Homo sapiens: one gene and its partners. The protein of the gene in region 2 interacts with the protein of the main gene of each other region in a pairwise test. Each region holds a gene or a part of one and is shown on either strand. Other genes may lie near its edges.

Region 1 (9,538 bases), on a different chromosome or scaffold from region 2:
GGTCCCGGCTGATAGAAGACATTGCATTCTGATGATCTGGGTTGGCTGGCTTAAGGGTCTAGAGCAGTGTCGAGGTGGAACAGGGACCCATATGGTGGGGAGTGGGGGCTCACAAGAATGGCTGAGGCTACGGCAGACTGATCTCTGGGCCTTTAGCCCAAAGCTCTTTAACTTGGCTGAGTTTTTTTTTTTTCTTTTTTTTTGAGGCGGAGTCTCGCTCTGTTGCCCTGGCTGGAGTGCAGTGGTGTGATCTTGGCTCACTGCAAACTCCGCCTCCCGGGTTTGAGCGATTCTCCTGCCTCAGCCTCCCGAGTAGCTGGGATTACAGGCGCCTGCCATCTCACCCAGCAAATTTTTGTATTTTTAGTAGAGATGGGGTTTCACCATGTTGGCCAGGCTAGTCTTTCACTCCTGACCTCAGGTGATCCACCTGCCTCAGCCTCCCAGAGTGCTGGGATTACAGGCGTGAGCCATCACACCCGGCCACCTGGCTGAGTTAAGAACAAGTCCTCATCCCTCCTAGCAGTGGACTAGGAATGAGGGCCTACTTTCTAAGCTCATGCATTTGCTGCCAGATTTGGGTTTCTCAATGGAAACAAACTGGCCTTCATGGGGATGTTGTTAGAATCAAAAGAGATGCTCATGGGAAAATGCTAGGGCTGTGTAGAAAGTCCACAGGATCTACAAGGTTAAGATAAGGGCCGTGATTATCATTTTCCCCAGAACACATGTTTCCTCTGTGGGTAAGTGCCTGAAGCTAAGGGGAAGGGGTGAAGGAAGAAAGTGTGGCCCGGGGTCATGAGGGCAAGGTGATCCGCTTATGACAGCCAGGGCCTCCTTTGCCTGGGGCACTCTCACCTGTTTGTCACTAGCATCTGGATGATGAAGTTGGAGAGAAAAACCAGGAAGGTGCAGGCTTCATAGTATTTGAAGGCGGGGATTGCAGAGAGTCGGTACTGAAAGTGAGAGGGCCAGAGGTGGAGACAGGGTCCAGTGCTACCCATCACCTTGAAGGCATCACTCCCAGGCAAGGGGTGGGCTCCTCAGCCTCACCGCCCAGGCTCCAGTTCAGTTCCATGTAGACCCTACCAGTTCTCCAAGGAGTTACCCTCCTTCCTCCCCCTACCATCTAGTAGCTCAGTCTACAGAGTGACTTTCCTTTAGAGAGAGGCACAAGCTCCTCACCCCTAGGATCACAAACTGAGCAGACTTGGGGAGGAGACCCAAGGGCTGACCCCTCCCCAGCACCAAGGAACTAAAGTTGGGAAGTTGTTTGGTGCCACCCACACCACAGCCCACCTCTTTCTCCATCTCCTTCTCTCTGAAGTACAGTGTCAGTGGGTTGAAGTCCTTCGACTGCTTCCACTGTCTGGTGGGAGGTGGGAGGGTGGGTGAAAGCACCAGAGAACAGAGGGCACAGAAGGGCAGGAAGAGGGCAGAGTGAGGGCAAGAGGGGGTGGTCAGGCGAGTCTTCCCTCCAGCCCCTCAGGGAGCACCATCCCTTCTCCACCATATGACCTCAGGGCCTGCGGCCCCCCCAGCCCTCTTTGTTCTCCGTACTTCTGCGAGTTGAGCTGCTCAATGACCTGGAAGAACTTGGCATCCCCGGTGTCCAGTTCATCATCTAGTCCCCGGGGGGTACGGCTCCTGCACAGTGAGAGCCAAGTCCATCACCACAGAGACCCTCAGAGCGTCTGGGCAAAGCAGGAGCAGACCCCCAGGGAGGATGGAGGGGGTCATCCAGACAGCCCCACTGGCAAAGACTTTGAGGCCTCCTCACCGATCCAGGCTCCACTGGGTGCTGAAGGAAGCCAGGGTCTTCTCCTGTTGGGAGAGCACAGGGGGAGGTGGGCATGGTGGGTGTTTTCCCTGCAGTGAGGTAGACCATGAGCCACACTGCATGCTCTATACATGTCTTTGACCTTGGGCATTTCACTGGGCTCTTTCTTTTGCCTCTAATGACCTCTCTGTCTCCCAAATCCCACCTGCCCTTGAAGGGGAGGTTTGAATCTCCTTAAAGTTTCCCCCTGACTCTCTAGACTCCCAGGATCTTTGTGTGTGTGTGTGTGTGTGTGTGTGTGTGTGTGTGTGTGTGTGACTGAATCTTGCTCTGTCACCAGGCTGGAGTGCAATGGCATGATCTCGGCTCACCACAACTTCCACCTCCCAGGTTCAACCGATTTTCCTGCCTCAGCCTTCCAGGTGGCTGGGATTACAGGCATGTGCCACCACGCCCAGCTAATTTTTGCATTTTTAGTAGAGATGGGGTTTCACCATGTTGGTCAGGCTGGTCTCAAACTGCTGACCTTAGGTGATCCGCCTGCCTCGGCTTCTCAAAGTGCTGGGATTATAGGCATGAGCCACCGTACCTGGCTGGATTTTTTTTTTTTTTTTTGCAACGGAGTTTCGCTCTTGTTGCCCAGGCTGGAGTGCATTGGTGCAATCTCAGCTCACTGCAACCTCCGCCTTCCAGGTTCAAGCAATTCTCTTGCCTCAGCCTCCTGAGTAGCTGGGATTGCAGGCACGCACCACCACGCCTGGCTGATTTTTGTATTTTTAGTAGAGATGGGGTTTCGCCATGTTGGCCGGGCTGGTCTCAAACTACTGACCTCAAGCTATCCATCTGCCTCATCCTCCCAAAGTACTGGGATTACAGGTGTGAGCCACCGTGCCTGGCAAGATTTCTAATATTTGACTGAGCCCCTGGAACTTCAGGGGCTAAGTGGATTTCTGTGCTAGTGAAGGTCCTGCCTCAGGAGACACCCTTGAACAAAGGGTCCTGCTCTTCCACCCTAATACTCCCTAGCCTGCACACCAGTGGAAAGCGGCAGGAGGTCTAGCATGGGCCCCGGCAGGCATTCCTGCTATGTAATTGTACCTAACACCATCTCACAGTCCCTGGGCTTGTAGCAGTCCCCACACACCACTCCACCCATGCTGGAGGTCTCATCCTGCAACAGTCAGCTGAACCTCAGCTTCTTCCTTCCTCTTCCTCCTGCCAGCTTAACCCTCTGACCTCTCCCCTACCTCATGTTAACACTTGGAATTAAGTACTTCCTGCAACCACTGCTGCCAGTGTCCTTCCCCCACTCCCCAGTGTTGGGGGGTTGAAGAAGAGAGCATGCAGTTTCAGGAATTGAGTTAAACAGAGACATTTCCTGGTGCTATGGGTGCACAGCCCTAGAATCAGAGACAGGAGGAAGTGGGGGGTCCAACTGCCTTTGTGGTGTCAGGGGAAGGCACTCTCCTGAGTAGAGGCTGGGGAGTTATGGACATGGTGTGTGGGTGGCAAGCCACCCAGGCACCGAGGCAAGAGACAGAGGACACGAGCAGTTCCAGTATAATAAAATATAAAACAAGAATTGTTATACCAGATATAGATCTTAGATATGATTATATATGAGTATCATTAATCATTAGTGGGTAGCAATTACTTTTTATTCCAATATTATGATAATCCTCACTCAATAATCATAGCCTAGGAAAAACCAGGCCATACAGAGATAGGAGCTGAGGGGACATAGTGAGAAGTGACCAGAAGACAGGAGTGCGAGCCTTCTGTTATGCCTGGACAGGGCCACCAGAGGGCTCCTTGGTCTAGCGGTGACGCCAGCATCTGGGAAGACGCCCGTCACCAAGCGGATCATGGTCCAGCGGTAGCAAAAGGTGTCAAGAAACAACACCAGCTACTTAGCAGACCGGGAAAGCGGGGTGGGGGGGGGGGTCTCCCTTTCCCTGGGGGAGTTTAGAGAAGACTCTGCTCCTCCACCTCTTGTGGAGGCCCTGACATCAGTCAGGCTCACCCACAGTTATCCGGAGGCCTAACCGTCTCCCTGTGATGCTGTGCTTCAGTGGTCACGCTCCTAGTCCACCTTCATGTTCCATCCTGTACACCTGGCTCTGCCTTCCAGATAGCAGTAGTAAATTAGTGAAAATACTAATAGTCCCTGATATGCAGAAATAATGGTGTAAGCTGTCTTTCTCTTTGTCTCCTCTCCCTCTCTGCCTCGGCTGCCAGGCAGGGAAGGGCCCCCTGTCCAGTGGATATGTGACCCACATGACCTTACCTATCATTGGAGGTGACTCACATTCTTTACCTTGCCCCTTCTGCCTTGTATCCAATAAATAACAGCGCAGCCCGACATTCGGGGCCACTACCGGTCTCCGCGCATTGGTGGTAGTGGTCCCCCGGGCCCAGCTGCCTTTTCTCTTATCTCTTTGTCTTGTGTCTTTATTTCTACACTCTCTCGTCGTCGCACACAGGGAGAGACCCACCGACCCTGTGGGGCTGGTCCCTACAATGGTGTCTGTAGGGATCTTGTATCTTCTCTGAGGTGAGCTGGAGGGCTCTTTCTCTAGAAGGAGGGGCAAGGAAGGGCCTGAACCAGTGACTGGGGTGACAAGACAGTTCGGGACTTTGGGATGTCACAAATCATTAAGTGGCTCACTGGTGGTGGGGGCAGGGAAGGCTGCCAGTGGGGCCTGAGGATACTGGGGGTGGATTTAACTAAGCTCTGGGGCTCAGGATGAAGGTGCACATACCGGGAGAGGGGTGGAGGTGGACACAGGGCTGTCTCCGTGGCTCAGGTGGGCAAAAGGCTTGGCTGCGCCCCAGGACTCCAGGTAACGGGTCATCAGCAGTGATGGACGCATCTTGAGGCCCTCAAGCGAGGACAGCAAGCCTCCTGCAGTGCCCTTCTCATCCTCCTCCTCTGCCTGGGGCACATAAGGGCTGACAGTAAAGACCACAGACACTTCCTCCTTCTCCCTCCACCCCCCACTAGGACCCAGGAACTCAATCTCTGGCACAGAAGAGATCAGGCCTGTTGGCTGTGGGGTGGTTTGTGTAGGCCAGCCCATGGGGTCTGGGCTGGGCTTTTACCCGTGGATCGATGACCAGATAGGTAGGCTCCCCTAGCTCCCGAAGGTAGGGGTCCCGATGCTCCATGCCTGCGTCCTCCACAGCATAAGCCCCTGCCAGCAGGGCCAGGGTAGCCCCTGTGATGTGCACTCGCCTGGAAGGAGGGAGGCAGTAGGGGTCAGCAGGGAGGGCCTTCAAATCTCCTATTTCCTGCCCCATCACCCCCATGGCTCCTAGAACTGACAAACATCTCATGTCTTTTAAAGATCGTTCCTGGATGTCTGACTTCAAGAAAGAGCCTGTGTTACAGGAGGTGCCTCCCAGCTCCCCTCCCTGCACCCTAGGATCTCCCAAGCCCCATATGGGACTTATCTTAAGGTACTCATCTTGTGCTTATCTTAAGGAACTAATGAAAGGATGGCAGCCTGTGGTAGGCCTGGTTGGCCTTCTGCTGTAGCTGCCTAGGGCCCTAGGTCTCACCCTGGTACACCGCCTGCCTCCATGTGGTTAGCCAGTGTGACATCATGTGACCAAACGTCGTACTGCCACTTCTGCAGCCCGATGACTCCACACAGTACGCTGCCTGAGTGCACGCCCACACGCATGTTGATGTCCACGCCAGTGGCTGCCCGCAGTTTCCTGAGCAGTGTGTGTGTGGGACAATCTGAGTCCTACCCTCAGCCCTGCCTGTGAGACACCCCAGATTCTCACAAAGAGGACTTCTGTCAGCTGCCTGCTGCCCCCCACATCCACCCTCAGCATTCCTCTTGACCACCGCCTGAGCTGACCTGATGGCCCGGCACATGTCCAGGCCCATGCGCACGCAGTTGATGGCATGGTCTGGCAGTGAGAGTGGCAGCCCAGAGACACAGTAGTAACAGTCCCCCAGGATCTTGATCCGCATGCATTCATGCTCCTGGGAGTGTGTATGTGGGTGTGCAGAGGAACCTGGTTAGAGGTCAGAAGGGTAGGAGGGAGTTGGGAAAAGTGGGCAGCGAGCGGGGTATTCCTGAAGAACTTCCAAGGTGGGGTAGTGTCTAGATCAGATCTAGGGACTCCTTTCACTTGATATGGGGCTAACTGTCTTTCATACAGATCTCTTTCTCAGAAGAGTTTCCCCAAGGGCTGGATGGCTGTGGCTCTTTCCACTTTTGGCATGTTGAAGGGGGTACCCAGAGTTGAGTACGTGGTAGTGGTCTCAGGATTGAGAGGTTGGGGGGAATCCAAGAATTGGTTGCTTGGAGGCATCCCTGGAGTCTAAGCAGGTTGCTGGGCTGAGGTTGCATAGGGCAGAAATTTCTCTTGGAAGGGCCTCCTAAGGTTAGAATATCAGAACGTCTCTATAGATTTGGTTGTAGTGTCCAGAGACACATATGTGGGGGCTCTGAGCATGTTTGGGGCATTGTACTTGGGACATCTGTGGCGATATTGAGGGATCTCTGTAGGTTTGAGGTGTGTGGTGAGCAGCTTCATGACTGGGAATGTTTGAGAGGGTTTCCTCCTTCCACTGGAATATCTGGGGGCCTGCATGCACTGAAGTGGGCCTGGGATCTTATAAGGTGGGAGTTTCCCTTGGAAGGGGCTACCCAGGATGGGATGTTTGAGGGTCCCTGGGTGGGGAGGGAAGTCTTCTCTGACCTTGGCAATCTGGTCGAACTTGCCAAAGAGCTCATTGAGCATGAGCACCAGCTCCTTAGGGGAACACTCGCTGGCCAGCCGCGTGAAGCCCACGATGTCAGCATACAGCACGCTGCATAGGGCAGACTGTGTCAGCAGGGCCAGGGTCTTAGCCCACAGGCCCCTCCCCTCCAGCCATTCTTCCTCATACCTGACTCCCTGGTGCCTCTTGACATAGAGGCTGTGGAAATTGTTAGTGCTCTCTGGCCGTGACCCCTGTCCTGCCTGCAGCCGTGCCATGATCTCTGCCTTCATCTCTCGGGCCAGGTAGGCAGGAAGGATGGACAAGAGAAGGTGTTCCTGGAAGAGGTCACCATGAACACCAACTCTTCTGCACCCTAAAGCCAGGAGGCCCTGTCCCCCAAATCACTCAGGAGCCCACACTGCCCATCCTAGGTGCTCCCCAGGGTGCTCCCCCAGGTCCTCCCGCTGCACACAGCAGGGCCCCAGCACTCCATCCTACACTGATCACCTTTAGTGACTAAACTCCCAGTATCAACACCTGAATGGGAGTTCACTTAATATCATAATGCTCTAAAGTGCTTTTTATAAGCTTTGGTTTGTTTGAGCCTCACAACCTTCTAAGATGGGCAATACCCACATTTTATACAAAAGAGGAAACAGGTCAAGAAACCTGCCCAGAGTCACTCAACTTGTGGAGGAGCCCCGTTATGTAATCTAAGCAACTCCTCCCTCGGAGCGCTGCTCTGACCTTCCTAGGCCCGGCTGACCTGGTGCTTCTTCTCGGTGTCCAGCCGCCGGCGTGAGTGCAGGGAGCTGAGTGCCTCCCGGAACGTGGCCCGCAGGGCGCGCTCCATCAGCGCCTTGTGGTACACTCCTGCCACGTTCCCGCACAGGAACAGCACTGCGTTTGCTGCCAACTGTGGGTGAAGGCCAGCCTCAGAGGGCGCGGGACCCGGGTGCTTGTCGTGTGTAGTTGGAGTTGGTCTCAAAGACTGGCTGGGGAAGACTGGGCTTTACAGTGAGGGACCTAACTATTGTGGGACAAGTGGTGCCACACTGTGGCATCCCTAGGGACGTTTCCCTTCCCAGATGCTCCCTCCTCCAGACTCTCGGCTGCTTCACCAACACGACCTCTTAGGTCTGGAAACGTTTGCAGGTAGGTTTCTTGTGCTTGGAATACCACTCCACTGTCGCTACCCACTCCCATCGCACAAAACTTTTTTTTTTTTTTTTTCATTCTCTGTCAAGGTTTCATTAACCACATCTGTTGTCCCCGGGGTAAACCACGACACGACTCCCTTCCGTGTGGCCTGGATCCCTCTTCTGGTAACAGCAGGCATTGCATCACACTGTTGTACCAGCTCTGCGAAAGCACGGTTGGGTATCCTGCGCCCAGCGTTGCACCTTGACTTGGAGTCACAGCTCAACAACCCCCTAAAAGGAGCCTACTAGCACGTGGCAGAGCCGTCCTGAGCGCAGCCTGTGCTACTTGCGTGCTCACCTGCGGCAGCAGTGCAGGCCGTGAGTCCGGCTGTGGCCCAAGATACAGCCCGAGGACCAGCAGATGCGAGAGTGAGGAGGCGAGGCCCGCGACGGCGGCGTCCCGCATGCCCAAGGGCAGCATGGCATACGCCGTGAAGATGACGAAGAGAAAATAGGACACCTGGGGGCGGGGCGCGGGAAGCCGAAGGCCCAAGTGGGGCTATTCAAGGCCTGGTGAGGGATCGAAGCCCGGGCCGTCCCCGCTGCCCCGCCTGCCGCCCCTCTCACCTGGTCCCAGGCGCTCACCACGCCCCCGGTGAACAGGAAGGCGTGGCCTAGCGCTAGCAGCGCGACCCATACCAAGCCGGACAGGGGACGCGTCCAGCGCTGCAGTCGCTGCTCCCGGGAAGCGAGGCCCAGCAGCAGCGAGAAGCCGCCCAGCGCGCACAGCACAGTGGTCAGGAAGCTCGGGTCTGAGGTCAGCTCCTGTGGGCAGGGGTGTGTGAGGCAAGATTGTGACAGGGAGAAGGAACGAACCTGATAAAGGAAAAGCCAGCAGCCCAGCCCCTCAGCCCAGTTCTGAAAGGTGTCTCAAGCCTAAGTACGAAAAGGAGGCAAGGCACCTCCGCTTGCCATTCACTTTAGGTTGAACCATTTGAAATTGCTTGTGTCCTACTGCTTTTATCTAGACTCAGCAGTCTCGTATGGTTTTTGTTGGTTGGTTGGTTTGTTTTTTGAGACAGAGTCTTGCTCTGTCGCCCAGGCTGGAGTTCAGTGGCGCGATCTCGGCTTACTGCAACCTCTGCCTCCCGGGTTCAAGTGATTCTCATGCCTCAGCCTCCCGAGTAGCTGGGATTACAGGCTCCCGCCACCACGCCCAGCTAATTTTTTTTTTTTTGTATTTTTAGTAGAAGACAGGGTCTCGCCAAGTTGCCCAGGCTGGTCTCGAGCTCCTGGGCTCAAACGATCTCCCGCCTTGGCCTCCCAAAGTGCTGGGATTACAGGCGTGAGCCACAGCGCCCAGCCTCCTGTTGTCCAACCTATTATCTTGCTGGGACAGCTACCCAGAAGATCTGGCTCCCATCCCCTATTTGTTTCTGAGCCTCAGTTTTCTTATCTGTCAAACGGGAACCAAAGCGTCATGAAGCAAGTGAAAGATAGATCCAAGCTCACAAGGAGGCACTTCGGAATGAATGTCTCCAAATCTGGCCAATTTGCTCGGGAGATTCCCGGAGCCGGGGACCGCGGCCGGCAGCTTGAAGGGCGGCGCGAGGCAGCGCTCGAGCAGCAGGGGGCGCCAGGACCCGCGGCGTCCCGCACCTCCCTGGCCACCAGGGCTGCGATCTCGCCACCTGCCTCAACTCCAAGCAGAAGCTGCACAGCCGTCCCAGCATTTTGTCCCCACCTCTTCCCGGATTTAGGCGTGGACCAGCAAGGATTGGCCGCGCCCGGTGATTTTCCCACCTTGCCTCCAAGCAGTGAAAAGAAAACCAGGGGCAGGCCATTTCTAGAATTGGATTGAAGACCTTCTTCCTCCCCAAACAGAAACTGGAC
Region 2 (11,623 bases):
GTGTGATACAGTGATACCCTATCTCAAAAAAAAAGATATTTCAAAATGTTGAGCATTAATGACCCTGGGTAATTTTTAAGCTTCTTTCCTATTTTTCTGTGCTAAGTACATTTCTTTTATAAATGAAAACATAATCCCCTGTTAAATGCTTTACCTCATGAAACCTTCTCCTGGAAAAAACAAAACAAGGGAGGCTGAGGCAGGCAGATCACCTGAGGTCAGGAGTTCAAGACAGGCCTGGCCAACATGGCAAAACCCCATCTCTACTAAAAATACAAAAGTTAGCAGGGTGTGGTGGCGGGCACCTGTAATCCCAGCTACTTGGGAGGCTGAGACAGGAGAATCGCTTGAACCCGGGAGGCAGAGGCTGCAGTGAGCTGAGACCATGCCACTGCACTCCAGCCTGGGCAACAAGAGCAAACCTCTGTCTCAAAAACAAACAAACAGACAAACAAAAACTTATACTTAACCTCTTAAGCTTATTCCTTCTATTTTACTCAACACCTCTACATTTCTAGGAGGTATTAAAGACATAAAAAGTCACAACGATTATAAACAAGTTCAGCCAATCCTGAGAACTAAATAAAGAAAATGAAAGCCTGTCTAACAGTCATTCCTTACCTTCCTGGCTTGTTCTTGCAAATGTTGGATTTGCTCAGCTATGACTGTCAGCTTGTTGGTGGCATTTGCTCGGATGAATTCATCAGCCTACAGGTGAGAAAAAACTAAACTGTGGGTTGAAAGAGGAAAAGACTTCTATGATGTTCTTATCTTGATCCCAGGGTTATGTTAATATTTTGCTTCTGCCTAAAATATTTTTCCCATTCTTGCCACTGCCCCATAGCCTCCCACTCATCCGAGGCCCCACTCAGATAGCACTGTCATGAGAAGGCCACCCTGACATGACTCCACGCCACAGAGTTAAGTGCTCTCTTCTATTTCCCATAGCTTTCCACCCCTTCGCTATGAACTGCAGTTACACTGAACTTCTTTGGTTCTCCAGCATGCCTTCTCTCTTTCTCTCTCCTGCTACCAAATATACTGAATATATCCTCTCCTCCAACCAATCCATTTTTCCTCCTGCTCTTTACCTAACAAACACCACACATTTCTCAGGTCTCCATTTTCTCATGTTTAAACACTTGTGAAATCAGGGATGGATTTTAAATAATTAAAAGACACTTGTGATCTGGCCCTTATCATCTGCTAAGGTAGAAATCTAGATACACATAGAAAGTATTCGGGTTTTTCTGTGTGACCCCCACACCCCCTGAACTGAGAAAGTATGCGTTAATCTGACCATTTCCTCAGTTATTTACATCACAACTACTTAAATGTTAACTTATATGTGCATTTCTAATTATTACTTAAAATGTATTTTAAAAGACTGCATTATGATGTGGACCTGAAACAGAGTTATAATGTACACACAAGACTACCTGTCACGTGCCACAAAGTGCAACTGAAGGCAATGGACATTTTTTTTTTTTCAGACAGTTTTCGTTCTTATTGTCCAGGCTGCAGTGCAATGGCGCAATCTTGGCTCACTGCAACTTCTGCCTCCTGGAGTCAAGTAATTCTCTAATGTCAGCCTCCTGAGTAGCTGGGATTACAGGTGCCCGCCACCATGCCCAGCTAATTTTTGTATTTTTAGTAGAGGCAGGGTTTCACCATGTTGTCCAGGCTGGTCTCGAACTTCTGACCTCAGGTGATCCGCCCACCTCGGCCTCCCAAAGGTCTAAGATGACAGGTGTGAGCCACTGAGCCCAGCCAGGACATTTCTTAAAATAGATCAAATTCTCAAAGCTAGGAGAGACTAATGTGACAAATTCATGTGCTGGGAAGGATTACCACTCAGGCAATAGAATTCTGTCAAAAACTTCCACCTTACTTTTAAGAAAAGCTGATTATACACAATTAAGGTAAAGAAATGAGGAGATTAAACTAGAACCTGAACTAAGAAATATTAAAGAGAATTTGCTGGTTAGTTGAGGAGTCTTAAGGCAAAGTTCAGGTATAAACCAGTGTTATGAGTGAACAGAAACCACACAAGTAAACTGAGTCATTTATCTGTCCCACAGATGTATATTAGGCAGCTACTATGTGTCAGACACCACACTAGGCACTGGGTGTACTGGCAAACAGGAAAGAGAAGTCCCTGCCTTTGTCAAGATCGCAAGTCAAGTCTAATACCGTTCAACAGAAATATGAGGCAAGTTGCATATAAAATTTTAAATTTTCTGGTAGCCACGTTAATAGTAAATTAATTCTAACAATACTTTTTTTTTTTTTTTTTGAGGCAGAGTCTCGCTCTGTCACGGAGGCTGGAATGCAGTGGTGCAGAGGCTCACTGCAACCTCCGCCTCCCGGGTTCAAGCAAATCTCGCACCTCAGCCTCCTGAGTAGCTAGGACCACAGGCATGCGTCACCATGCCCCGCTAATTTTTGTATTTTTAGTAGAGATGGGGTTTTGCCATGTTTGCCAGGCTGGCCTCGAACTCCTGGCCTCAAGTGATACGCCTGCCTCAGCCTCCCAAAGTACTGGGATTACAGGCATGAGCCACCGTGCTCAGCTAATACATTTTACTTAACCTAATATATCAAAAACATTTTCATTTTAACATGTAATCACTATTTGTAAGTTGTTAATGAAATATTTTGCATTTTTTGTTTGTTTTTGTTTCTTTTTTTGGTCCTTCTCAGTCTAATCCATATTTTGCATTTGATATTAAGCCTTCAAAATATAGTGTTTATTTTGTACTCACAGCACATCTCAATTTGGATGCTAAATTTTCATCAGAAATACTTCATCTGTATTTAAACTTAATAAAATTTATATGTGAAAAAGTTGATTCACATACTCAAATTGTTCCAATATACTTGAGTTCCAATAATTGAAGTAATTATCAGGTTTTTTAAATTCAAATTAATTAAAATCAAATAAAATACAAAATTCGGTTCCTCAGCCACACTAACAACGTAACACAAGTGCTTAACAGACATAATGTTGCTAGTGGCTACCTAAAGCACAGCTCCAGTGAGTAATAGATACCAAAAAGTAAAGATGATTAAAGCTAATATTATATGTACTCATAACAATGCACTGTTATGAAGGAAATAACCACAATTATGTCGTAGAAGCAGGTTAAAGATAACAAATGAGTTAAGTAAAAAAGCTACTTCATTTTTATGAAGTTTAATAATAGGGAGTGGTGGGGAATTGGAAAGTATATGTAGCCTAGAGGTATTTGAATTCAATTTAATAATACTGTCATTTGGATGGGGTAGGGTACGGTCTTCTTCAGACAAGAAGGCCTCACCAAGGATATAACATTTGACTTGGGTCTAAATGAAAGGAGAGGACCGACCATGAAAAAAGCTGGAAAAAAAAAAGTTTGCAGGCATTTGAGGCCAGTGCAGCTGAAGAGTAGTTAGTGATGGGCAATGTGTAGAACAGGGTTTAAAAAGAGAGCAGAGACCAGATTGTGCAGTCTTGTAGCCCATGGTAAAAGAATTTGCATTTTGTTCCAAGAATGAAAGCCCAGGTGTGGTGGCTCACACCTGTAATCCCAGCACTTTGGGAGGCCGTAGCGGATGGATCACCTGAGGTCGGGCGTTTGAGACCAGCCTGACCAACATGGAGAAACCCTGTCTCTACTAAAAATACAAAATTAGCCAGGCATGGCGGCACATGTCTATAATCCCAGCTACTTGGGAGGCTGAGGCAGGAGAATTGCTTGAACTCGGTAGGCAGAGGTTGCTGTGAGCCAAGATGGCGCCATTGCACTCCAGCCTGGGCAACAAGAGCGAAACTCCATCTCAAAAAAAAAAAAAAGAAAGAAAGAAAGGAGGAGCCATATATGGCCAAGGAGAGAGTAGGTATTTCTAGAGCTAAGGTAGTTCCAGATTAGGGGTGGCCTTATAATAACCCTCCCTTTTCTTAAGGTGTTAGCAATAAATCTCATAAACAAAATTTGAATTTATATTTTGAAGAGTTAATATAAAATGCAAAATATGGATTAGTCTGAGGTCCAAAAAAAGGAAAAAAGAAACAAACAAAAAAAATGCAAAATATTTCACGAACAACTTAAAAACAAAAGAGCCTCATAAAAAAGAAAGGAAGGGAAGAGTACCTACAACTACTAAGCACTAACCCTGGCCTCAACTACTCTGAGGCCCTTTACATTCATCTCATTTACTTCTCACAACACCTTTATGACGCTGGAGATGATAACCTCACTTTCTCATTTTAGCAATTAAGACTCACAGACATGAGGCAACCTGTCCAAGGTTTCACAGATAATAAACAGCAAAGGATCTGAACACAGGTCAGATTCCAAAATTCATGCCTTAATACCAGGCCTCCTGAGCTTTCTGAACACACACCAATACCTGGGTCAGTCTTGCTAAAAAAGTACTTTTTTTTTTGAGACGGAGTCTTACTTTGTCACCCAGGCTGGAGTGAAGTGGCACAATCTCCACTCACTGCAACATCTGCCTCCCAGGTTCAAGTGATTCTCCGGCCTCAGCCTCATGAGTAGCTGGAATTACGGGCGTCTGCCACCATGCCCGGCTAATTTTTTGTATTTTTAGTAGAGACAGGGTTTCACTATGTTGGCCAGGCTGGTCTTGAATTCCTGATCTCGTGATCCACCCGCCTTGGCCTCCCAAAGTGCTCGGATTACAAGCGTGAGCCACTGCACCCAGCCCACCACCATTTTTTTTTCTTTTTAGACTTGCTCTGTCACCCAGGCTGGAGTGCAGTGGTGTGATCTCAGCTCACTGCAACCTCTGCCTCCCAGGTTCAAGCAGTTCTCCCGCCTCAGCCTCCAGAGTAGCTTCGGACTACAGGCACACACCACCATGCCCGGCTAATTTTTTGTATTTTAGTAGAGACAGGGTTTCACATGTCGCCCAGGTTGGTCTCCAACTCCTGAGCTCAGGCAATCCTCCCGCCTTAGCCTCCCAAAGTGCTAAGATTACAGGCGTGAGCCACCACACCCAGCCTCATTTTTTTGTTTTTTTTTAAGAGTCTCACTCTGTCACCAATTCTGGAGTACAGTGGTGCGATCTCGGCTCACTGCAACCTCTGTCTCCTGGGCTCAAGCGATTCTCATGCCTCAGCCTCCCGAGTAGCTGAGACTACAGGCATGAGTCACCACACCTTTTAGTAGAGACGGGGTTTCACCATGTTGGCCAGACTGGTCTCGAACTCCTGACTTCAAATGATCCACCCACCTTGGCCTCCCAAAGTGCTGGGATTACAAGTGTGAGCCACGGCACCTGGCCAAAAAGTACATTTTAGATAGTTAATATGTTTGATTCAATTTGTTTGTCTCTAAAGTTTTTTTTTTCTTCAGCTTCTCAAATACAGATTGTATTGGGGAAACAGAGGCAGCATAATAATGCATCCTCTGTATTTCATAAGATTATAGGATGAAAGACAAAAACTGTGTTCTTTCTTCCATCTGTTCAGGCCATCGTAATAAACACGATAGTCATTCAATAGCACATGAATACGTTGTGTGCACAAGATTCTGTCCCTGCCAACCTCCCTCCCAATAAGAGTAATCTGATTAACTAGATGCATATTCTCTTAATAAATAAAAGTTGCACTTTGCTCCCCAGCTCTTCAAAAAGAAGAAAGCCAAGTTTTGAATTAAAGGAGCTTTCTGCGTATCTGAATTTTTCTTAATTTTAAAAAAAAAAGGATTCGAAGGATTTCTAGGATCATTGAAAAAAAAAGAGATGTGAGGGAATTTGAGCACATTAAATAATTTTGGGCAAAGCAAAGACCCTGGAACATAATCAAGGCCAAATCTGATAGTGTATACAGGGATAAGGGGCCATGATAATCTTTAAAACAGCAGGACCCTCCATCTGTGGACACTGAAGAGGGTGTACAACTGGAAGTCTTGATAAGAGATAAGAAGGAATCTGGTTTTTCATTGAATAATGACAAAACTTTAGATCTTGGAGCTCTACTACTTCAAACCTTTCACTTCACAGATAAAATAGTTGAGGTCCAGAGAGAAGTAATCTGCCTTAAGTCGCACTGCAAGTTAGTATCAAAAGTGGGATTAATACTCATGTGTCCAAACTTCCAGTGTTTTTTCCATTATTTCACATTTCCTCCTTATTTGACTTATTTTGGCCATCCATATATAAACACTGGGCTTGGGAATACTGTGTTTAATGAGGACTAAACTTGGAGTCCTTGCCCTGCTAGAAGATGTTTAAACTCTCAGGTAACAAAGATCTTATGGGAAGCAGCTTAAAATAAGCGGACCTTGAAACTTCCCGAAGAACTTTTCTTTGTGTCAAATGGGAAGAATAACTCTGTACTGCCTACCTCACAAGGCTGTCCTAAGGTGCAAATGAAATAATGAACACTAAAGTGTTGTGTAAACCTTCCCACGAAGGAAGATTATGGGCACTCAAGTTGCAGTTAGAGGAACCTTTGGTCCCAGAAGGTCATTCGAATCAGGCCACCGACTCACAATGACAGTCGGCTTTACTCGTCTGTAAAATGGAGACAAGAGCAAATGCCACCCCCACCATAGGTGGTAGTGAGGTCTGAGCCGAAAGACGCAGAGTACAACGTGAACGAAGATGGTTATTCGCTGCCCCGGCCGCGCCTCCTCACCTTCTGCACCTGCTCTGCGAGCGCCACGAGGTCTAAGGGGTCCCCGGCCCGGTGGGTGTGGTAGGGGCTCACCAGGGCCAGGCCGCCGGGGGTCGGGGTGAGCTCCACCAGGGCTCCTGCGACACACACCCAGGAACACAAGCCGTGAGCTCCCGCCGTCGGCCTCCCGCGGAGCCCCGAGACCGGCTGCCTCGCGGGAGCTGACTTCCCCCTGCTGACTCCCGCCCCGCATACCTCCCTGGCCTGCAGCTGGCGGCGCTCCTTGCCTTTCAAGGACCCCCTCGGTCCGCCCCGGCGCGGCGGCGTCCTCCATGACAGCGCCTTATCCTCCCCACTCCCTGGGCTGTGCGAGTAGGAAGAGCCTGCGCATAAAGGCGCGTGGGCGGAGCTTCCGTCTTTCTTGTCTACTGGGCGTCAGTTCGACTGAGCAAGGCCTGAGCTCGGAGGCGGGGCTCCGGCTGACGCGCCGGGATTCGCTGAGGGCCGGTGGGGGGATCCGGGCTGACTGAAAGGAAAAGAGGCGGTGCAAGCCTCGTGGGCATGCGCCGCCCGGCTTGGAAGGTGGGGCTTCGCCCGGGGGCGGGCCTTCGCCGGGGGTAGGACTCCGGCCTTGGTGGCGGGTGGCTGGCGGTTCCGTTAGGTCTGAGGGAGCGATGGCGGTACGCGCGTTGAAGCTGCTGACCACACTGCTGGCTGTCGTGGCCGCTGCCTCCCAAGCCGAGGTCGAGTCCGAGGCAGGATGGGGCATGGTGACGCCTGATCTGCTCTTCGCCGAGGGGACCGCAGCCTACGCGCGCGGGGACTGGCCCGGGGTGGTCCTGAGCATGGAACGGGCGCTGCGCTCCCGGGCAGCCCTCCGCGCCCTTCGCCTGCGCTGCCGCACCCAGTGTGCCGCCGACTTCCCGTGGGAGCTGGACCCCGACTGGTCCCCCAGCCCGGCCCAGGCCTCGGGCGCCGCCGCCCTGCGCGACCTGAGCTTCTTCGGGGGCCTTCTGCGTCGCGCTGCCTGCCTGCGCCGCTGCCTCGGGCCGCCGGCCGCCCACTCGCTCAGCGAAGAGATGGAGCTGGAGTTCCGCAAGCGGAGCCCCTACAACTACCTGCAGGTCGCCTACTTCAAGGTGCAGACCTGCCTGGAACCAGGCGGCCGGGGTCCTTCTGGGGAGAGGAGTGTTGCAGGGGACCTGAGGAGCTTGGGGGATCGGGGAAGTGTCCGCAGGGAGGGGAAAGTGGCCTCCTGGCTGGGGAGCTCTCCTCGGAGCCGGGGAGAGCTGCTCCCTGGCAGGAGACCTTCCTCGCCCAGTTCGCATGGGCAGATGCTAACCCCAAAGGTCCAGCCTGGGGTTAGGGCACAGGCCAAGCAAAACTCATGGCCATTTTGTTCCCTGGGAAATCTCCTGGAAGGAATTAAAGCGGCAGTTTGGGTCTCCCATTCTGATGTCATTGTAAGTGTCCGAGTGAGAAGCTAGTAGCGGTCTACAATATCTCCCTTCCGGTTGGTTTTCCAGTGGTGCTTTTCCTGCTGTTTGATTCAGCAGCTCTCTTTCAGGATGTGAGGTTGCCACGTCGCCAGCAGGGGCTGCCTGGCCCTTTCTGTGTGTGTGTGGGGGCGGGGGGGGGACCCTCTGGCTAGTCTGCCAGGTTTACAAAGAAAATGAGTATTTTTCGGAATGCCAGAGTGCCATGTGTCCAAGTGTACACTTGGGCTTGGAGCGTTCCAGGCTTGTTTGGTGGTGGTGATGGTGACGATGATGATGATGATGATAGCCAGCACATACTTCCAGGCACTATTTTAAGCAGTTTGCATTTATTAACGCATTTGCCCTAATCTTCATAATATCTTGTCAGGTAGATGCTGTTATTAGTCCCACTGTATTGGGGGTGGGGGGAGAAAGAGTTGTGCATTATATCTGGTATATCTGTTGTTTAAAAGACCTTCGATTCGATCTAAAGAGACACTTAGAGACTCTTGGGGACCTCAGATTTCCACCCCTCCACAGCATTCTGCCTACACAGTTCCCCTCATTTTTCCTAGTTACTCGGAAGAGCGCTGGACTTGAAATCAAAATAATTGCGTTATGTCTTTGGTTATGTCGCTTCATCATAGCACTTTCTAAAACTATTTGACAAACATGTATTGCATACCTACTGCATTCCAGTTCTTGTACAAGTAATTAAATGCTCGACTAACGTCTTTGCTTTGTCTTGCTTTGCTGTTAAGAGTTACTGTAGTAAGGGCTACTGCAAGGGCATATACTTAGGGCTGCGGGAGCACAAAGGAGGGAGACTCTAGCTTTATCTCAGAGAAATTAGACTTCAAAGAAGAGGTAATATTGAAGCCTGCCCTAAGTATTGCCAGGGGGAGAGGAAAGAAGGCTCCTCCAGATAGAGAGAAAAGTAGAACCAAAGCATGATGTATTCAGGAAAAAAAATGAACTCTTGTGATTGCAATGTCGAGATGTGTGTGGGGAGTAGTAGGAGAGGCGGCTAGAAAAGTCAGTGAGGCCAGATTTGGAAGAGAATTCTGCGGACTGCAGGGAGCCATCCTCAGATTTGGGTTTTAAAACGCTTATTCTGGAAGCCATGGTGAATGAGCCTTGGAAGAAGGAGAAAGTGGTGGCACTTGATTAGGAGGCAGACATTTGTCCACAAGAGAGGAGGTTAAGTACCTCAGTGCTTAGAGAGTAAAGAAGGCTGGGGGTGGAGAGAGGAGTGAGGACATGAGGGAGAACAGAGAAAGGCAGGAGCAGCGCTGAAAGACACAAGAGCTAGAGTAATTCCATGAAAGGGACAGACCTGAAAAAATTTCTAATTTTACAGTTAAAGAAACTGAGGTACAGAGATGGGGAGTTATTTACCTTGGGTCACCTAACCAGGGCTGACTCCTTTAGTGTGCCTTTACTAGTACCAATGATAAGAAAATAAGTTTTCTTAGCATATTAATCATACCACCTAAAATTTATTGAGCACTTAATCTGTGCCCAGCACCATGTATTACAGGCTGCATATTATCTCGTTGAACTCTCAACAATGCTAGGAGATAGCTAGAGAATGCTATCTCCAGATGATAGATTAGGGAAACTGAGTTTAGAAAGTAAACTTTAAGTATCTTGTCTACTGCCCAGCCAGTCAGTGAGTCATTAAGCCCAGATGTGATGCTGGCCTGTCTCTTTTCTTTCTTTCTTTTTTTTTTTTTTTTTTTTTGAGATGGAGTCTCGCTGTTGCCAGGCTGGAGTGCAGTGGCGACCTTGGCTTACTGCAACCTCTGACTTCTGGTTTTCTGGTTCAAGTGACTCCCCTACCTCAGCCTCCCGAGTAGCTGGGATTACAGGCACGTGCCATCACATCCGGCTAATTTTTGTATTTTTAGTAGAGATGGGGTTTCTCCATATTGGCCAGGATGGTCTGGATCTCCTGACCTTGTGATCCACCTGCCTCGGCCTCCCAAAGTGCGGGATTACAGGCGTGAGCCACCGCACCCAGCCCTCTTTTCTTTTGAGACGGAGTTTCGCTCTTGTTGCCCAAGCTAGAGTGCAATGGTGCGATCTCGGCTCACTGCAACCTCCGCCTCCTGGGTTCAAGCGATTCTCCTGCCTCAGCCTCCTGAGTAGCTGGGATTACAGGCACATGCCACCACGCCCAGCTATTGTTGGTCTCAAACTCCTGACCTCATGATCCGCTGGTCTCAAACTCCTGACCTCATGATCCGCCCGCCTCAGCCTCCCAAAGTGCTGGGATTATAGGCGTGAACCCCCGTGCCTGGCCACGGCTGGTCTCTTTGATACCAGTGTCCACATAGTTAATTACTAGATCATCAGTGATTTATTTGGTTGGATTCTATATATGAAACCTGTGTTACTTTGACATGCTGGAGTCCATTGCTGTGGGCATTGTGGTCTGTAGCCTATTTCTCCCCCCTTGGATTTCTTTTTTTTTTTTTTTTTTTTTTTTTTTTGAGACAAGAGTCTCGCTCTGTCACCCAGGCTGGAGTATGGTGCTGTGATCTCGGCTCGCTGTAACCTCCGCCTCCCGGGTTCAAGCGATTCTCCTGCTTCAGCCTCCCAAGAAGCTGGGATTACGGGTGTGCGCCACAACGCCCAGCTAATTTTTGTATTTTTAGTAGAGACGGGGTTTCACCATGTTGGCCAGGCTGGTCTCAAACTCCTGACCTCAAGAGATCTGCCCCCTTCGGCCTCCCAAAGTGCTGGGATTACAGGCATGAGCTACCGCCCCCGACCACCCCCTCAGATTTCTTAGAGCTATTTGTTTGAACCTCATGAGCCCTGAGCTTTGAGTCAGAAAATACTATGTCTGGACTTAGTAAAGGACCTTAGAATTTTTAGCCATCCACCTTTTCCCTAAATGTCTCAAAAATTCTTCATTTTATTTTATGCAAAAAAAAATTTTTTTCTAGGAAAATTCTTAGGCATAGTCTGTTAGCTGCTCTTTTTTCTCTACCCCTAAATCCTTGAAGCCACAGAATTTCTTCAGCTCAGGCATTACATTTGATTCATGAAATATATATATGTATTTTTTTTTTTTTGAGTCAGGGTCCTGCTGTGTCACCCAAGCTGGAGTGCTGTGGCACCATCTTGGCTCACTGCAACCTCTGCTTCCCAGGCCCAAGCGTCCTCCCACCTCAGCCTGCAGAGTAGCTGGGACTACAGGCATATAGTACCATGTAATTTTTGTATTTTTCGTAAAGACAGGGTTTCACCATGTTGCCCAGACTGGTCTTGAACTCCTGAGCTCAAGTGATCCACCTGCCTCGGCCTCTAAAAATGCTGGGATTACAGACCTGAGCCACCGCACCCAGCATGAAAACATATTATGTGGGCAGTCAGTCTTTCACAGCACTCCCCATACAATATGACCTTTGTTTTAAAATGGAACATTGCTACTTCCTGTAATCTGGGGAACCCCTAAATCTGACTTGGGAAAGAGCTACAAATCTGCCCAGGGCACTATGCTCCTAATCTG
Region 3 (9,267 bases), on a different chromosome or scaffold from region 2:
CCCTGTTTCGGGTTGCCACAACTGAAATGGAGCCCGGTTGGGATGACCTTGTGAGAGAAAGAAATGAATCTAATCCATAAGGCTTTGTAGTACAAGATTGAAAAACTCAACAAGAATTTAATTCTAAAAGCAAAAATTGGTTTGAGTTTTCAAGTTTACTAATTTGGATTGTGAGAAAGTACCAAGTACCAGCCGTCCAAACTGATCACAATTAAAATTCTGACAGTTGCCTTTTTTTTCATCTCAAATGGCAGCATGGGACTGAAACATGAGAATGCCACCTTTTTTAAAACTTAGTTTAGTGACAAAGTCATTGTCTTTTATGATATAGTTAATTTTAAAGAGATTTAGTATTAATGTGAGTTGAATTTGCAGTCTGTTTTTTAGGTGTTCTGAAGATAAATGCCAAAAATTTCAGCTCTTATTTTAATGGAGTGTTAAAATTCTGATTCATATAGTCTTAAATTATCAACTCCTTAAATGTGCTTTTGAACCAATTTGCAGAAGCTCACATAGCAAGTTCATAAGTTTCCAAAAAGGAAGCCCATACATAACAGTGGAGGTGTTTTGTCTAACCATCAAAATGTTTGAGACTTTTTTTTAAACATTTCTGAGTTCGAAGGTAATACTGACAGATTTCTTCCCTCTTCCCTCCCCATCACCCACCTCAGTGATAACACATTACTGATAGAGGAAGTCATTAGAATCATTTTTAAGTTTCAGATATAGGAGACTTCATGCAATTTGGAGATAAGACTAATTATTGGGGGTTTTCCTTGGATTTTTTTTTTAATAACTGGGGGCTATTTTATCAGCTTGCCTATTAAAGGACTATGGTAAGTATAGAATCTTAATGGTTGCCAGTTAGTAATTCTTTTTTTTTTTTTTTTTACTGTAGACACAAGTTTGGCCCTATCAAAAACGATGAGGAAAAAAGATTGCACTCCAGGATTAGGAGGTGTGAGATATTTTAGCTTTTTTGTCTTATCTGCGTGGGTATTGCTGCTTTATTTTAAAAAATCCTGCCTAAAGTAAACACTTTGTTTTAAAATGATACAGTATCAGATTTTGTTAGATGCTAGAAATGGATTTATTCTAAAATTTGGAACTGTCGTACACATTCTATATGTAAGATAGCACACAAGTAGAAATATTTAAAAGCAGTCTTATTCACAGATTGCAGTAATTCTGTATTTCTACTAAGATAATCTGCTTTGTGCCAAAACAGTAATTTCCAAACTTCTGTTCACCATGAAAAGGCAATCTTAAAGTTCATTATGTAAAACTAATTATAAACAGGACCCAATTTATATTCATAGATCCTCTCAAGTATTATACAATTTAAAAACTCTTGTTCCAAAGTCCTGTCTTAACTATTGAAACACCTTAATCTGTGGTTACTAATCCAGCAAATTCAAGGAACCAGGCTATGACTAAGAATTTAGGTGGAATTGATGTCTGGGCAATTAAAATAAATGGCATAAGAGCTTAAAAACCAAAGTTGTGCCAGTGGCTTTCAACTAGAGGCAGTAACCTGTCATTCCAGAGGATGCTGAGAAATGTGTAGGGGCACTTTTTTGGTTGTCATATTTACTAGGGGCTTCTGTTGGCATTTAAGCCTAAAGACACTCACCCCTGCAGTGCATGGGACAGCCTGGCACAATGAAGAATTAGCCCTCCCAAAATGTAGATTATTTTATTTCAAGGGATAGGGCAGATTACCATTAGAAGCAAAATTAAAAGTACAAGCTGGGCAAACTGACAGAATACTAGATAGGAGAGACTAATTCCAACCTTCTAAATTTGGCTAGTAAAGTGCAATAAAGGCATTGATAAGTTCTGTTAGCTCACCATAGCACTTGTAAATCAGGAATTAATAATTGAATCAGATTTAAGGGCTCTGTCCTGTTATACATATTTAAGGCAGAAAAAAAGTTACATGTCGATTAGGTACTTATCAAGAATGGTCAAGCTGAGATTTTGGTTAATAGAGTAAGCTTACATATCTAGAGAAACAACATAGTGGAAAACCGAAAAAAAAAAACAGAAAAATCTACCGGTAATTTCCCAATAGCTTTGAATATTCACAGCAGAGCTTTATTACTTGAGAGAAAGACTGGAAGACCTGAAAGCCACTTCTGCTTTCTAACCCCAGTTCCTTAAATATTGAAATCTTGTACATTTTGTGAAATTCCAGTATGTTTTGCTTAAGGTGTTAATAAAATTAGTTTGCATCATGTAGTCATTGAGTGAGGGGGAGATATAAGCCAAGGATTTTAAATTGACCCTTAGCTATAGAGAATTTGCTATAAGCTAGTCTTGTTTGTAAAAAAAAAAAAAAAAAAAGAAAAAGAAAAAAGTGTATTTTACTGTTTTCTGTATTAAGTAATTCTGTAACTGCATGGCAGTCTTTTTTTTTTTAAATAAATATAGTTGTTACTGGTCCTGTTGTAGCAGTGAATATAGTTAAAATACGTACATTAAAAAAAAAATTATTAGGTCCTTACCAGTTACTGTCCTATAGCTCATTCCTACTAGTTTTCTTGACAGATTTGTATTCCCAGTGTCCCGTATTGCCACTCAAATTGCTCTACTATGCTAAGTCCTTGTTAATAGTCTTACCCTCCTTGAAACACTTGAACACTTGATGACTTTAGCTTTGAGGAGATACCATCTCCAGGTGTGCTTTCTTAGTCTTTGCAGGCACCTCTTCCCTTCAATATCTGTTCTTCGTATTTTTAAAAAAATTTGTTTTAGACTGCCTTGTTCTGTGTCAGCTCGCTAGCTGATCTCATTTCCTTCCATGGTTTCCTTACCATTTATATGCAAATGACTGTCAGATTCATATCTCCTTTCTAGATCTTCCCTAATTGATGTATCTAATTGCTAACAAATGCTCTTTGCTGTCTCAGGCACTACATGTCATTGATCTTGCCCCCAATCCTGCTCCTCCTCTCATGTTTCCTCTTTGACTAAATGGCATTACCACTACCAACCATTCATTTGTCCTTTTTACCAATTCTCCAATGCTGCCATTTTAATTCAGGCCATCAACCTACCTAAATTATAGCAACAGCCTCCTTATTAGTCTCCCTGTTTTTTATTTTTATTCCTTTCTACACTACAACCAAATTGCTCCAAAAGACTTACTGATCATGTCACTGCATTGCTTTCACCATTGCTCTTAGGGTACAATACAAATTTATCTTCATCTTTAAGGTCTCAGTATGCCACTTCATCTAGGAAACCTTCATTGATGCCCTCTAGATTAGGTGCCCTTACTATCCATTCCCTATACACCCTGTTCTTTCCCAGACATACACTTGGCACACTTTATTGTTACTGCTTATTGATCACTGCTAGACTGTAAGCTTTGTAAGGGCAGGGACCATATAAGCCTTGTTCACTGTTATATCTCTAGTGCTTAGCACAATGCCTGGCATTTCAATAAATGTTTGGACAAACGAATATTTGTGTAGTGTTTTACAATTTTTGAAGCTCTTTCACAGTCTTATTTGACCTTCACAGTCATTCTGCCTTAGACTGTCCATTGGGTAACTTTTATCCACATATTACTAATTGAAAAATGAAGACAAGTTCTTTGTAACTAGGGACCTCGTTGTATTCTCAGAATTTAGTGTAGTGCTTAGCATGTGACTTAAATATGTATTATGTGACTGTTAAACAAATTGTGGTTTTCTCTGTTGTATGAAAGGAGAGAAGGATAACAAATTGCGGTTTTCCCTGGTAAACACAGTAAGTAGTAAACTCAGGATTCAAAACCAAATATACACACCAAATCCACTATGTAATATTAAGTTTGCATATCCATGTATAGAATCTTATTTTTTTTTACCCTTTGTAAACAGTGTCATATATATATATATATTTTTTTTTTTTTTTTAAATTTCCAAAGGAACCTACATATAGAGGGAAAAGATTAGACAACTACTTAGTGAACTAAAACAATATGTTTTTACTAAATGTTACATTTAGTATTGGAAAAAGATAATGCCGCCTAAGAGTTAATAATCATTTTTCCTTTTGTAGGCATCAACACTAGGAGAAAATGGCATGCTATTTACTTGCTACTTTCCTTTACAGATGATTTTTGGCTCTTCTGGGATTTAAAAGTAAGTAAATTTAACAAAGTAGAAGACTGACTCAGCCCTTCTGGTCACTATATATTCAGTTCACTTGTTTTTACACCTGCAGAATGTCCTTATCACCCAAAGGGAGATGACCCAAAAGTGACATCTAGTTAATGTATACTTCTAAAGTTTGCTGTATTCCTTTGCCTTCTTGTTCCCATGCCTCTCTGAACTTAATTTCTGGGTAACTGAGGCTTTTCAGGCTTAGGTGGGAAAGCCACACCCTTAGTCTGTTTCCTTAAGCCATTTTGACCAATTTATGGGATTAACTAGTATAATCTTAGTTGGAGTTTTAGTCTGAGGCATATTAAGTCATTCAGAGATCTTAACAGTAGGTGTCATAGTCATCCAGTGATTTGGTGCTTGCTGCAAAACTGGCTTTTTTTTTTTTTTTTTTTTTTGAGGCGGGGTCTCACTTTGTCACCCAGGCTGGAGTGCAGAGGTACAATCTCAGCTCAATGCAATCTCTGCCTTCCTGGCTCAAGCAATTCTCCCACTGCAGCCTCCTAAGTAGCTGGGAATACAGGTATACACGAGTACACCCAGCTAATTTTTGTATTTTTATGTGGAGACAGGGTCTTGCTGTATTCCCCAGGCTAGTCTCGAATTCCTGGACTCAAGCAGTCCGCCCGCCTCGGGCTCCCAAAATGTTGGTGTTATACGTGTGAGCCTCTGCACCCGGCGGCAAAACTGGCTTTTAATCAACCTTTTGGCTAAAGGATTTCTCTTTTTATTTATTTGTAAAAGGATTTCCCATTTTTATCTTTCTTTTTGATATTAAAATGTTGCCTCATCCTACCCAGTAAGTACTTGAATTTGAATTCTCTTCCTTTTCATTTTTGCCTGCAAACTGACCAGTCTTTTCTGAGTTCATCTCTTCTGTACGTTTTGTCAAGTGCAGTGAACAGCAACTACAAAATATTTTGTTTTTCTGTCTTTTTCTTTAGTAAAGGGTAGATGATCTGCCTTTCAGGTTATCTCAAGGGGCAGTTTCACCTTTCCATAATATAAATTACCCTTGTGTAAGTTATTTCTTCCATCTTCTGATAGCAATTTCCTGAATGCCTGCCAGCTAACCATTAAGCCAGTGTTCAGTATTTTAGCATTTTAAAAAACAAGGGACCAATTTCTGTGTCAGCATGGGCTAGCTTGCCATTGAATAACAAAGGCAAAATCTCACTGTCTCACACAACTTTTCTATTGCAACTTGCCTAGGGACTTTGGTTTAGATCATAGGTTGGCCATGATCAAACTATGGTCCATGGGCAAAATCTGTCTAGCTCCTTATTTATCTAAATAAAGTTTTACTGGAATATAGCCTTGTCCATTTATTTATTATCTGTGGCTACTTTGGTTCTACAATGGCACAGCTGAGTAGTTGCTACAGAGTGTGTACATCTCACAAAACCTAAAATACTTATTCTGTGGCCCTTTACAGAGAAAGTTCACCAATTTGTGCTCTAAGTTGCCTTCATTCTGGGTCTCAGGCTGACAAAGCAGATACCATCAGGAGTGTGGGTGCTAACTTTGGGAAATGAAAAAAGAGTATGGCAAATCACTTAAGGACTCTTAAAGGACTTTCATTGGCCAAAGCAAATCACATAGCCACATTAAAGTTCTAGGAGGAGTGTGATCCTTGCATATACCTGGGAGAAAAACCAGAAATATTTGGAAGACAACACCACTGATTAACATCTTCATTTATATGCTTTCTTCCAATATATTTTCAACTTGTTACTGAGGTAAAATTTAAAAGTGTACCGATATTAAGTGTACACCTCAGTGGGTTTTTATATATGCCCTTGAATGCACCACCCAGGTCAAAATATAGAATATTTCTAGCACTTCAGTAGGTGTCCTTATGTTCCCCAGGCCCCCACCAACCCCTTTTATCACCACGGATTAGTTTTGCCTGTTTTAAAACTTTATGTAAGTGAAATAATTATATGCACTCTTCCGTGTCTTGTTCAACATTGTATCTGTGAGAGTAATCCATGTTATATGTAGTAGCAGTTCATGTTTTACTTCTGTGTAGTATTCCATTGTGTGACTACATCACAACTTACCCATTCTACCGTTGATAGAAATTTAGGTTGTTTCCAGCTTGTGGTCATTATGAATAAAGTTACTATGAAAATGATCACATCTGTCTTTCAGTGAGCATGTGCACCCATTCTTGGCATACTCTTTGGTATGTACCCTGCTTCTATATTTTCCTCATATAGTTTATTCTCTACATAGCATTCAGAGTGATCCTTATTTTAAAATATAAATTAGGCCAGGCGCGGTGGCTCACACCTGTAATCCCAGCACTTTGGGAAGCCGAAGCAGGTGCATCACCTAAGGTCAGGAGTTTGAGACCAACCTGGCCAATATGGTGAAACCCCATCTCTACTAAAAATACAAAAATTAGCCAGGTGTGGTGGTGCATGCCTGTAATCCCAGCTACTCAGGAGGCTGAGACAGGAGAATCGCTCCAACCCAGGAGGCAGAGGTTGCAGTGGCTGAGATCATGCCACTGCACTCCAGCCTGGGCGACAGAGCAAGGCTCCGTCTCAAGCAAAACAAAATATGTGTGTATGTGTGTATATTCATATAAATCAGACCATACCACTTGTCTGCTCAAAATCACCAATGGCTTTGTATCACAATCAGACTAAAGTCCAATGTCTATCATGGCCTACGAGACCCTGCATACTCTGCACCCACACATACTCTGCACACATACCCTTTTTCTTCCTACCATCTTACCTCATACCCTTTATCCCTTTCCCTGTTCCTTCTCACTCTCCTCTGTACTAGACATAGTGCTTGTAAACTTGGGAATCAAAATTAATGATGTGGCCTTGTCCTTAAAAGAGATTGTAATCTAAGTAGATAGTTTTGACATAAGCTATAACACTGGTTTATGTTAAATCAGTTACCCCAATTTATACTGATGTTTAACTCCTGGAAGGGATTTAGAAATTAAAATGCAAAATCTTGACAAATTTGAGGAATGTGTAAGATCTTACCTCCTAATTCTACTAATTCTAAATTAGAGTTTACCAATTTTTGTTTGTTTTTTTTGAGTCTCGCTCTGTCACCCAGGCTGGAGTTCAGTGGCGAGATCTCGACTCACTGAAACCTCTGCCTCCTGCGTTCATCTTCTACTTCAGCCTCCCAAGTAGCTGGGACTACAGACGAGCACCACCACGCCTGACTGATTTTTTGTATTTTTAGTAGAGACGGAGTTTCACCATGTTGGCCAGGCTGGTCTTGAACTCCTGATCTCAAGTGATCTACCCGCCTTGGCCTCCCAAAGTGCTGGGATTCCAGGCATGAGCCACCATGCCCGGCCCGAATTTACCAATTTGGTTATGACATTCATAATTGTTCACTTTTATGGGAGCAGAGGGTGAAGGGAGTTGGGAAAGCAGTGGAATAAATCAGTAAGTACTGATATTAAGTCCAAAATAGCACAGTCATAAGGGACCTCCTTAAATGTTGTACCATTATTGGTACATTATTGGTTGTTCTAACTGAAATCAGTTAATAACTGAACTCTCCACATTTTTTACAACTTTCATATACAATTGAAGTACAAGAAACTGCACGTATTTAAAGTAGAAAATTTGATTGGTTTTGACATAAATGTGTGAAACCATCACAATCAAGAGCGCTAATCCCATCATGAGGGCTCCACATTTATGAACTAGTTGCCTCTCAAAGGCCCCACCTCGAAATACTGTTGGATGTTAGCATTTCAACATATGAATGGGGGTGTGGGAGACACAAACATTCAGTCCATAGCAGGAAAATATAGGGATGTCTCAGAACCACCATTGTCTACTTTCCTGTTTGTGTCTGCTTTCTTATCACTTCGCCTGCCGGCCAGCCTTTATGCGCTGCATTGGTGTCTATCACCACCTTTAGTGCTGCTGACCAACTGACCTAATCTCATGTGCCAATTCTGTATTCCTGAGTGGGGACATGTGATCCAGTCTTCGGTGGTGTCTTTCCTGAGGTCTGACATATACCTGTAGTGAAGTAAGTGGTGGCTATGAAGGGGAGAATATCATAATGTATTTGGAAGGGCTTTCTGGTTGTAAGAAAGAAACTTGTGCTAGCTTAAGGGGGAGGAATAATTGAATGATTAGAGAAATACAGAAGTATCTCATGGAAACCACATGAGGGAATGAAATTCAGTGGTCCTTCAATAATTATTTGATGAAAACCTGCTAGGGCCAGGCACTGATCTAGGCACTGGAGATTCAGCAGTAAAGCAAGCGGTATTTCCTACCGTGATGGTTGTCTGTGGTCCCTTTGCACATCCGCTTCATTCTGTCTGAACAGCAGCTTCACCTGCTCATTTTTCTTCAAGGGAGAACATAGTTGTGACTAGCAAGATACTTTTTCCTAAAAGGATCCATAATACATAGCTACAGGCCCCCAGGCCTGTGGTTGGGATGGGTTGAGGTTAGAGACTTTATAGGAGGATATGAACTGACAGGCACACCAAAAGTCGTCTTACTCAAAGCTATCCAGTGAGTTTATTGCCTCCCAATTATTGGAGTTCTCACTGAACCCTCTGAGTCAGAATTTGTGGAACTGAGTATTAAAGGGTCCATAACTTCTTTGCAATGTAAAGAAATTGGGCCCCAGAGAGGTGGTTAAAGTTATCTTGAATTATGTAGCAGAACCAGGAAGAAAAAGCAGTTTTTTGAACTGTTGCAGTACTTTTCTCATTCTGTCATTGCTGTCATTACCTGACTGCCTTCATGCCTCCATTTCTTTTAAGAAACTTTTTTTGGTGGAAGACCTCAGAATCTTCATGGTATTTTCTTTGGTTCTGACTAGCAATGGCTAAGACAGGTTATCTCTCAGTGCTTATACAGAAATCCTTTAGGAATCTGGAATTCTATTAGATTATCAATATGTTAGATATATAATAAATATTAGAAACATTTTATATTTTGTGTGTATTCTGAACTGTTTAAAAAGCACAAATATTACCTGTTTCTAGAGGATTTGAAAAAATTTATCTGAAAAGAATGGAACTAGCTGGGCACAGTGGTGCATGCCTGTAATCCCAGCCACTCAGGAGGCTGAGGTGAGAGGATCACTTAAGCCCAGG

Evidence for each region.
Region 1: the proteins of C1orf50 (region 2) and ADCY4 interact in binary tests that used the Homo sapiens proteins (3 or more experiments, as listed by UniProt).
Region 3: the proteins of C1orf50 (region 2) and EPM2AIP1 interact in binary tests that used the Homo sapiens proteins (3 or more experiments, as listed by UniProt).

The regions. Positions count from the first base shown.
Region 1 is NC_000014.9:24,324,519-24,334,056, forward strand, and holds part of ADCY4 (adenylate cyclase type 4), read right to left. Parts: intron 8,471-9,538; coding exon 8,273-8,470; intron 8,166-8,272; coding exon 8,004-8,165; intron 7,420-8,003; coding exon 7,270-7,419; intron 6,839-7,269; coding exon 6,690-6,838; intron 6,612-6,689; coding exon 6,500-6,611; intron 5,778-6,499; coding exon 5,650-5,777; intron 5,501-5,649; coding exon 5,342-5,500; intron 5,016-5,341; coding exon 4,883-5,015; intron 4,717-4,882; coding exon 4,543-4,716; intron 1,825-4,542; coding exon 1,781-1,824; intron 1,648-1,780; coding exon 1,561-1,647; intron 1,370-1,560; coding exon 1,300-1,369; intron 957-1,299; coding exon 859-956; intron 1-858. UniProt on the Homo sapiens protein: Catalyzes the formation of the signaling molecule cAMP in response to G-protein signaling.
Region 2 is NC_000001.11:42,762,648-42,774,270, reverse strand, and holds the start of C1orf50 (uncharacterized protein C1orf50), read right to left. Parts: upstream 7,023-11,623; 5' UTR 6,960-7,022; coding exon 6,881-6,959; intron 6,763-6,880; coding exon 6,647-6,762; intron 709-6,646; coding exon 622-708; intron 1-621. Other genes in the region: P3H1 (prolyl 3-hydroxylase 1 isoform 3 precursor), read left to right, coding at 7,300-7,764.
Region 3 is NC_000003.12:36,982,067-36,991,333, reverse strand, and holds the end of EPM2AIP1 (EPM2A-interacting protein 1), read left to right. Parts: coding exon 1-80; 3' UTR 81-6,291; downstream 6,292-9,267.